2 linked regions of the Homo sapiens genome follow. The protein of the gene in region 1 interacts with the protein of each later gene in a biochemical or structural test. Each region holds a gene or a part of one and is shown on either strand. Other genes may lie near its edges.

Region 1 (7,037 bases):
TATTTTTGCAGCAAGGAAGCGCTCCATTCCTTGAGTCTCAGGTAAAAACCAAACATAAAGGATTTTCCAGAAGAAATTGGTCTTCAGACTTCAGTGTCATTAAAATGCTCTTAGTTTTTATTTTCCCTTTAACATTTATCTTGTTTAAAACCAAGGTAGGTACATAATTTTGATTTAGATTCTGGGGAAGGGAAAATTGAATTTTCTTAATATTTTAGTTATCAGTTATGCATCATTTCTTCATGGCTTCTAATCCAAGCTGATTTTTCTCTGTATGTTGTCATTGACTTACTTTCTGATAATAATCTTGCTGAAATGTTGTTTTACTGCCTGTTTTTACCTGTAGAGTCGTGCTAATTTAGATGAAGTTGACTGATTTTGAAAGTTCTGAATTCTTATTGGTTTCCCCACTAGCCAAGTGTGATAAAGAAAATGCAGGAAGGAGACTCTGCTGACTCTGTGGTTACTTCTCGTCAAATAATTTTCCAGAAAACTGTCCCATCAACCCTAGAGGTTATTCTTTCAATTCATTTCATTTAATCTAGCAACAACATGTAGATCAATCTGTAGTGGTATTTTTAAAGGCACACGTATTTCTAGATTTAAGTTTTCAGGCTGTAAAAAACAGAAAAGTTTCTAGAAAACATTCTAGTTTAAAATGTAAACCAGGGCACTCACCTGCTCCTGGTTTGATATCTCTTCCCTCTGTAATCTGTGAAGCTATTAACCTACCTGGTCATATTGTATTATGCCTCCCTGAATACAAAAGTTTCTTAGCTTTCCTTTCTTTTGCCTTATTGGAACTAACACTAAAGAAAGTGAGAGAGAAACTCCTGAGACAGTGAACTTCAGTTGTAAATAAGATTGGAGCGGGCACAATGGCATGTGCCTGTAGTCCCAGCTCCTGGGGAGGCTGAGATGGGAGGATCACTTGAGCCCAGGGGTTCGAGGCCGACCTGGGCAACATAGGGAGACCCCATCTTTTAAAAAAAAAATGTAAGACTCGAACACTGTACAGATCACTGTAAGAGGCTCTAATAGTGTCCTATTTGTGGGAAATATTTCATTACAATGCCTTGAACACAGTCACACTCAATATTTATTGAATAATAAGTGCTATTATGGATTCATTTCCCTGTATAAAGAAATACAATTTACAAATATGGAAAATATTTACATAAATTTGTAGAATGTTGGGAAGCTCTCTGTGATAACAGTATATGAAGTATAGATTATATTTAACGAGGAAAACTTTTATCCCCACACATGTAAAGCTAAGTAACTTATAGAGCAACATCAATAATGTTATTTAATCTTGAAATATAAAATGATCCAAAATTTATCATAAGAGCAAATCTGTTCTTCAAAAAATTTACTGCAAAGTATGTTCCAGTTTAAAGAAGTTGCAACTCTACCTACCGAATGTATTCTGAGCTGAAGTTTATAGTTTATCATTTCAGAGGAGAAGAGATTGCAGCCATAATTATTAGATAATAACATGAGCACTGTATGGTCCCATCACAGACCTGCATGTAGCAGTTGCCCTGATTTTCTTAAAGGATTCTTATTTTAGAAATGAGATACCATCAGAATTTCTAATTTAGCTTTTATATTTCAAATATAGGGCACAGAGGATTGGGTTATTGTAGACAGAATACCAACTGAGGTAGTTGATGGTGATTTGAAAAAGATTGTGACTTACAAGGTGGTGACCGTGAGCAGTAAAACTGGTGATCTCCCAGCTGACATGTTAAAATCTGGCACTATTAAAATGCAAAGCTTCGAAGAATTGGCTCGAGAAATGCAACTGAAAGAAGACAGCAAACAGAAAATATACACTCTAGGAAAATCCTATGACACTGTCTCCGGGAGAATTGTTACTATGACTGGGAAAGCTAAAGAGGGTGAGAAAGTGGAGCAGCCCTCCACTACAGAAGCACTTCAGAAAATGGAGAAAGAAATACCAGAGTCCATGAAGATCATTCCCGGCCTGGCAGAATATGAGGTCCTGGAAACCCTCGCTGATGAGAAATCCAAGAGAGGACCAGAGGTCCAGACGACACAGCGGAAATTGTCCGAATCCCTGGCCCCCATCAAGGAGGCCGAGTCTCGCCGGCAGAGTCCTGAAGAAGATGACCTCAAGAAGGCTCCACAGCTGGAGAAGGATGTGGCCGTCCTCCCTGGCCTGGAAGGCAGACGCTTCAGCAAAACAGAGCAAGTGCCCGAGAGTGAGGTCTTAAAAGTGGGCCTCTTTGGTCCCCGAAGGAAGAGCCTGTCCGAATGGAGATATTCCCAGGAACCAGCCTTTACCGTTGCTACTGCCCATTACGTTACTGAGTCATCCGCCTCCCGAGTAGTGGTAACCAGTGTCACTCATTGGGGCCACAGTTTGCAATTCCAGCATGACAGTTTTTGAGGCAGTCCCCTTCCACCCCAAACCTTTCCGTTTCTCTTGCTGCTTGGCTTTATGTTGAGAGCAGCCAACCCAGCTTCTTAATTTTTTTTCATGGTTAAATCAATACCGCAGTGCAAAGTCAGCATTAAAACACTTTCCATTTTATTTCCAGCTCCCTGTTCCCAAGATGTGATAGTGCTGCTGTGGCTTGCAATGAAGGGGAAAAAATATATATATCTGCTTAAATCGGCGCCACCCTGATCCTAATAACCGTCTCTGCTTTACCAAACAAGAGCACCTGGTTTTCTATTTTATTTCCCATTCTTTTCGTTTCCAAACTCTGAGATTCCTTCGTTCTTCCTCCTCCCTGTCTCCTCTGCCTACGATTTTGTCTAACAAGCTGTGAATGTTTATGTGCCTGAGTTTGTGTCTCTCTTTTGTGCTTGACTCTGCCTCTCTTTGTTCACTCAGACTAAGCAGTCTTCTGGGGAAAAGCTCATGGATGGCTCTGAAATCTTCAGTTTATTAGAGTCTGCGCGAAAACCAACAGAATTCATAGGAGGGGTTACTTCTACTTCTCAAAGCTGGGTTCAGGTGGCCATTTGTTTTCGTCCTTGGTGTTTCTGAATGTGCCCATGTGCCTTTCCTTACCCTTTTTTTGGGCGTGAGTGTGTGGTTGCATCCAGCTGGCTTTGCCTTCAACATCTCAAAGGTGTCTTCACTTATTGTCCTTTGTGTCTGCTTGGCATATCTGTCACATGCCTTTAGTTGCATCTCAAGAATGTACTTCACTATTCGAAAGGCGATCATATTGAGAAATTTTAATAGAATTAAATATCTAAAAGCATTATGTCTCACCAGTTGAGTCTAAGAAAGCAGCCAAAACCAACGTGAATGCGCTGCAATGCTTTGGTTTTTGTTTTGTTAATTGCACTTTATCCTGCCTTCCGTTTGTTTTGCGGATGTCCTGAAGCAGCAGCGCAGGTTCAAGTGCATGCACCAGGGGCAGGGGCAGGCATCAGAGATTTCAGTGGGAGAAATGAAAGCTAATTTATATTTTTCGTCAGTGTTTCTGGTTATAAGCACTTGCTGCTGGCTTTAGACATCCTGGCGAGTGGCAGCTTTAGTTATTTTCTGACCTTTGGTTTATGGATGGTCACACTGATGCCACAATCTCTTCCCATGCAGAAAATGGAAACCAAGACGGAGTCCAGTGGAATAGAGACGGAACCCACCGTGCACCACCTGCCGCTTAGCACTGAGAAGGTGGTGCAGGAGACCGTGTTGGTGGAGGAGCGGCGTGTGGTGCACGCGAGTGGGGATGCTTCTTACTCGGCGGGAGACAGCGGGGATGCTGCAGCACAGCCCGCATTCACAGGCATTAAAGGGAAAGAGGGCTCTGCCTTGACGGAGGGGGCTAAAGAGGAAGGAGGGGAGGAGGTCGCTAAAGCTGTCCTGGAACAGGAAGAGACAGCCGCTGCTTCCCGTGAGCGACAAGAGGAGCAGAGTGCAGCCATCCACATTTCAGAAACTTTGGAACAAAAACCTCATTTTGAGGTAACTAGTAGTAAATGTTACTTTTATCACTAAAATAAAACTGATATAGGATGCCTGGAAATTTAGATCAGCATAAAGGTGGAGCTAAGTTTAATTTTCTGCCTCTCCCATGTATAGTGTATTTCTCCTCTCATTTCCTTCTTTCATACCTAGTAGGAGTCTCCACACTGATTTCCAGCTTTGGTGTCACATGCAAACATATCTCTTAATTATTAATAATATGGCACCAGGAAATGGTTTCTACTCTCACTGAAATTATTATAATTGGCAGTAAAATTGGGAAATGCAAAGTTGGCCAAGATATTAGAAAATGTGATACATTTATTTCTTATCAGTGCACTTTTCCAGAAGCACCAAAACCATGTTTACCCGGGTCCTAAATGCCAGAACTTTATTCTTTATCCTCTTTTATTGAGATTCCTGAAGTATTTGGGGAGTTAATGTCTCATTATTAGTTTCTTCTTTCTAAGAAGTTATTAAATAGAAAACTTTTTTTTATTGCCTTCAAAATGTTTTGCTTTACTTGGAGCATTTCATATAAAAGTGCTATGAGAGTCCAGGAGACTGACATGTGCATGTTGTATGCCTCATTCCCCAGCTTACTCTCTACATAAACATTTATAGCATACTAACCTGTGCTTATAACCACCAAGAGAGGAAAAGGAAGAAAACAATGTGTTCATGCAAACTATAACAGCCACTCTGCTTACTCCCCTTTGGCACAGTCCTCAACGGTGAAGACGGAAACCATCAGTTTTGGCAGTGTTTCACCGGGAGGAGTAAAGCTAGAAATTTCCACGAAGGAAGTGCCAGTAGTTCACACCGAAACCAAAACCATCACATATGAATCATCACAGGTGAGATATTCTGTGAAGACCAGAGCCCTGGCTGCTTATTTCACCCCTCTATGGCCTAGTGTGTTTACATAGAACTGCACGATATTTAATTCATGAGACTTAGAGGATCCAGCAGCCAGACCATTTCTATTAAAAGTGATGCAATAATGGTCATTTTATTAGTGATCAGGGAGCAGCAGATGACTTAACCAAGTCTTTATGTGTCTTGAAGTGTAGAAAAAGGCTCAGAAACCTGTTTCCCTAGCCACAGAGAAAGAAAAATATTCACTCACCCATCCACCACTCACATTTCTGAAACCTTAGTTTTTTTAATGACAGTTACCTGTGGTTGCACTTAGTACTTATTCTTGGGAGCAGCGCTCAGACTCTGAAGAGCATAATGATTGCATAATAGGAGATAGTGAAATTGTCGTAATGCCTTAAATAACGTAGCCAACTTCTGAAGAGCAGATGTGAGCACCTGGATGAGGGGTCTATGCCTCTGCTGCTTTAGGTCGATCCAGGCACAGATCTGGAGCCAGGCGTGCTGATGAGTGCACAGACGATCACATCTGAAACCACCAGTACCACCACCACTACGCACATCACCAAAGTAAGTGGAGTGAGAACCGAGAAGAGGATTCCTTGAGAGCGAGCTGGAGGAAGGTGCTTGTTCAGAACTCCTCACAGGTTGGGCTGCACAAGCACAAGGTGGCTTGAAGCTCAGGACGCCGGGATAGCTGCAAGGGGAGCTTTTACAGCCCCTAGATTTACGATGCACTTGTCCTCACGTGCGAGTTCCCCTTTAGGAATATACATTCTGATATCCTAAGCTTAATGCTTACTCCAGTGCTTGGCATGTGGTAGTGTTCCAGAAACATGGGCCATCCAGACCCAAGGGCCTCCATTCCGTCCTCACCTCTGGAATTAAAAATGTGAAATAAGTGCCATAGAACTCTAATTTCAATTCTCGAAGAGTGAATGATGTCAGCATCTTCGGCCATTTCCCCCTACTGAACCATGATGGTTTCTCCCAGTGAGTAAATTCATAAAGCTTCTCTACGTGTCTTGCAGACTGTGAAAGGGGGCATTTCAGAGACAAGAATTGAGAAGCGAATAGTCATCACGGGGGATGCAGACATTGACCATGACCAGGTAGTGTGTGTGAGACGGTAAATACCCTGGCAGAGAAACAAAGAAAAACCTGTTGGTCCTACAGTTTCAATGCTATTCCTCTAGTCCAGCATGTATTCCGAAGAAAATTCCGAATTAACTTTCCAATATATGATTTATGATTCCTTTTGTAATCATTGTACCTCATTTGTAAATTGTGGATATAGATCTAGCTCATAAGTCTCCACCTCACCACTGATCATGCATGTTCCACCTCCTTTTTGTTTCTGCCCTTCTGTGATTTCCCGGGGATAGGCGCTGGCTCAGGCAATTAAAGAGGCCAAAGAGCAGCACCCTGACATGTCAGTGACCAAAGTAGTGGTCCATAAAGAGACAGAGATCACACCAGAAGATGGAGAGGATTGACCAGAGGTAAGAGGTGATGCCGATTCTCTAGGCTTGCCTAGGCTGGCATGAGGCATGGGGCACTTCCCTCTCATCCTTCACCTGATCCCTCCTTTCCTCTGTTCTCTCACTGGCATTTGTTGGGCTGGTTACCAAGAGGATGGAGAATTGGTTTATGGGTTTGTCTCACATTTGGAGCTTCCATTCTTGTGGAGTTTTTGCATGCACTGCCAGTTAGAGGATAAAGGAAGAGCAGAGTCTATGCTTCTATGCTTGTGTGGTCTTCCTGGTGTTCCCTTTTATTCCATGGCCTGCACTCTTTGATTATCCAAATTTGTAATGGCAAATTTGATTTTACTTGCCATGTGGCCTAATTGGAACAAAGGCAGTTTTGCTCTGAGAGGCTCAATTTGTGTGTTCCAAATACTAGGGAAATAATATATACCCCTTTCTCCTTCTGATGGCAACATTATCCCGTCGTAAGCTTTCTCTTCAACTGTGTTTGATTGTAACCTGTTTATGCTTTTGTCTTTAGTTTTGTTTTTTTAATTTGAAAGCTGAGCACTCACTTTCTTTTTGGATGTCTTATATTTCCTGTATTCTTTGGGATGATTTTTCTCCCTAGCGTAGCACTGTCTCAGAAGGAGGCAAAAAAAATGCAGTCTTGTGGTCCTGTAGAAAGCACATACCTTTCCAGTGACTGTTTGGCCAGCATCATGAGCAGACTATAT
Region 2 (2,657 bases), on another chromosome or scaffold:
TGGGGGAAACTGCGTAAACAGCACTGTATTATTTCTTACAACTGCATGTCAGTATACAAGTATTGCAAAATAAAGAGTTAAAAAAAAAAAAAAACTGTTCTCAGTTATTGGTGGTGGTAGTATTAGTATTGCTATTCTGAGTTTTTATAACATGGAATAAAGCAAATGAATAATTTTAAACTATTCTAGTGGAAAATGAAATATTTCACCATGATCTTCAATAGACAGAAATCTCTATTGAGCTTTGATGGAAAGAAGTCTTTTTTCTTCTTTGTTAAAATATGTTTTTGTGTTATGGACCATGTTTAGAAAGGTCAATTCAAAATTATAAAACATATTCACCAAAAAACGAGGATTTCACCAGAAAACTCAAATATATTTAAGCCCATAAATTCATAATATTTAAAAAATTGTTCATCTTTAGAGGATAGGAACCAACTCATAAATAACGCTGATTATAGGAAAGTAATGCAAATAATGGGAAAGACTCCAGCATTGATCCTGCCTTTTCTACATGGACTGCACCACTACATGAAGGGAAGTATGTCTTTATTTAAGAATTCCGACTGATAAAACAATGTATCCAGGGGAACTAACATAGGATCCCCATACACAAGCAATTCTAACAGTTCCAGGAACTTGGTGAAATGACAATGTGCCCATCACCCAGTCTGATACAGTGTTTCACCTACTCAAGATGCCAGGAATTGTAAGAAGCACAGTCACTGGCACTCTCGGTACACCCAAAAAAACCACAGCCAGTTCCGGAAGTGCCATCAGAAGATGCATCCCAACTTGAGATGCTCAAGTAGGACAAAAAGTGGCCTTGATTCAAGTGACAACGCCATTTCATATCCTAAGCCTTATTTTCACTACTTCTTACTCTTCAGATTTATGGAGGGGCCAGTATTGTCACCCATATTGTATCACTGAAAATCAGGGTAAAATAGCACAGCATTATGGCAACAAGAAATATGCAAAATCCTCAAAAAACATGATAGTGGAAGAATAAAAAAAAAACAAAAAACCCAAAAACTATTTACCCTGCCAGGCTTGAAGCTCATCAGGCTGTGCGGCCTGTAACCTCTGATGGCGAACACGTCTTGACTGGGGTCTTCTGACGCTCCTCTCGCTGCCCATCATCTTCCACATTCAGGCCTCAGTGGATCCTTATCAAATGCACCAAGAGAGAGCAAATACCACCAAACCCTGGCTTCATAACTACAGATCTGCGAACTGTTGAAATTATGTGCACGATGTTCCACATGTACGTATTTATTATGGGACTCCAGGATTGCTGGTATGAACTTATTGCCATCTGCACAGCTTTGTCAAGAGTACAAGACTGTAATTAATCACAATTGTTTCCAAGATACTTTGCCTTAACTAAACATTTTGGTCTGTTGAGAATAGAACAACTTGATTCCAACCCTGAGCATGGCAAGGGCAAAGGACTGTCGTGGGAAGCAGGGGAGAGGATGGTGAGGTCTCAGTTTGCCTAGAGGTAAGAGAGTTAAGAGAAAGCTTTGATGCCACGCAGCTGTGGAGCCCAGGGCTGATGCCACCTTAGGCATGGTCTTTGTGGAATAACTTACTGGACATCCATAATACTAATATCCATTGCTGCTTTATGCAAGTGGCATGGAGTCAACATACCCAGATAACCCAGGAAAAGTATGTCACTTGTAAATAACCCACGACTCTATGCTGAAGTCAGCAAACTATGGCCCATGGGCCAAACCTAACCTCTTGCCTGTTTTTTTTTTTTCTTCTTTTTGGTCTGATCTGTATAAAATAGACTTTACATTTTGAAATCATTAAGAAAATCAAAATATTGTATGGCATGTCAAAGTTATATGAAATTCAAATTTATGTCCTTAAATAGTTTTACTGGAACACAGCCATGCCCAGGCATTCACATACCGTCAATGGCTGCCTTTGTATTACGCAACAGCAGAATTGAGCAACAGAGACAGTTACGGCCTACAAAGCCTAAAATATTTACTATCTCTGTCCCTTTACAGAACAAATTTGCCAACCCCTATCTCAGAGTTCAGGTTTCACAAGTGCTCTGGTAACTTTTTCATAAATAAAAGATAAAGCCTGAATGTATAACTACAAAACAGTCACATTTATTACTGTTTGCTGTAGTTTTCAAAGCTTGTGCACCAGACATGCATAAAAAATGCAAAAGTGAGCCCAGACTGGTTGTAAAATGTTTCTTGTTTGTCATTTCTCCCTTTGCAGTTTCCCTACTGGGCATGCACACGCAGCAGAGGAAGAACAACAACTAGTCACCGTGCTAGATTTAAAAGCATTTAATGACATAGCATATATTTAACAGATAGGGCAAAAGTTGAGAGGTACAGGTCGTACGACTGAGCACCAGGCCTGAGCGACCACCTCCCTGTTCAGGCCCAGCCTCTGGAGTTCATTCCTATCAATGTCATTTTGATTGTGCAGTAAGATGAAAATTTGTCATTACAATAGTTACAGTGACAGAGAAATGCACACTATGTATCAAATAGCAAGGAAATGAAGCAAATTATAACACAGTGTGGCAACGCACGAGCAAGTAACCATTAGAGTAACATTACTTTGTCCAGTAAATGCTTCAGTTCCACCACTTGTACACTTACCAATGATTTAAAGGGTTT

What was found.
Region 2: the proteins of EPB41L3 (region 1) and SPTBN1 form a complex in vitro, tested with the Homo sapiens proteins (one study listed by BioGRID).

The regions. Positions count from the first base shown.
Region 1 is NC_000018.10:5,393,973-5,401,009, reverse strand, and holds part of EPB41L3 (band 4.1-like protein 3), read left to right. Parts: coding exon of another isoform or gene 1-41; intron 42-2,866; coding exon 2,867-2,989; intron 2,990-3,583; coding exon 3,584-3,952; intron 3,953-4,677; coding exon 4,678-4,809; intron 4,810-5,302; coding exon 5,303-5,401; intron 5,402-5,862; coding exon 5,863-5,943; intron 5,944-6,216; coding exon 6,217-6,327; 3' UTR 6,328-6,333; intron 6,334-7,037. UniProt on the Homo sapiens protein: Tumor suppressor that inhibits cell proliferation and promotes apoptosis. Modulates the activity of protein arginine N-methyltransferases, including PRMT3 and PRMT5.
Region 2 is NC_000002.12:54,669,322-54,671,978, reverse strand, and holds the end of SPTBN1 (spectrin beta chain, non-erythrocytic 1), read right to left. Parts: 3' UTR 533-2,657; downstream 1-532. UniProt on the Homo sapiens protein: Fodrin, which seems to be involved in secretion, interacts with calmodulin in a calcium-dependent manner and is thus candidate for the calcium-dependent movement of the cytoskeleton at the membrane.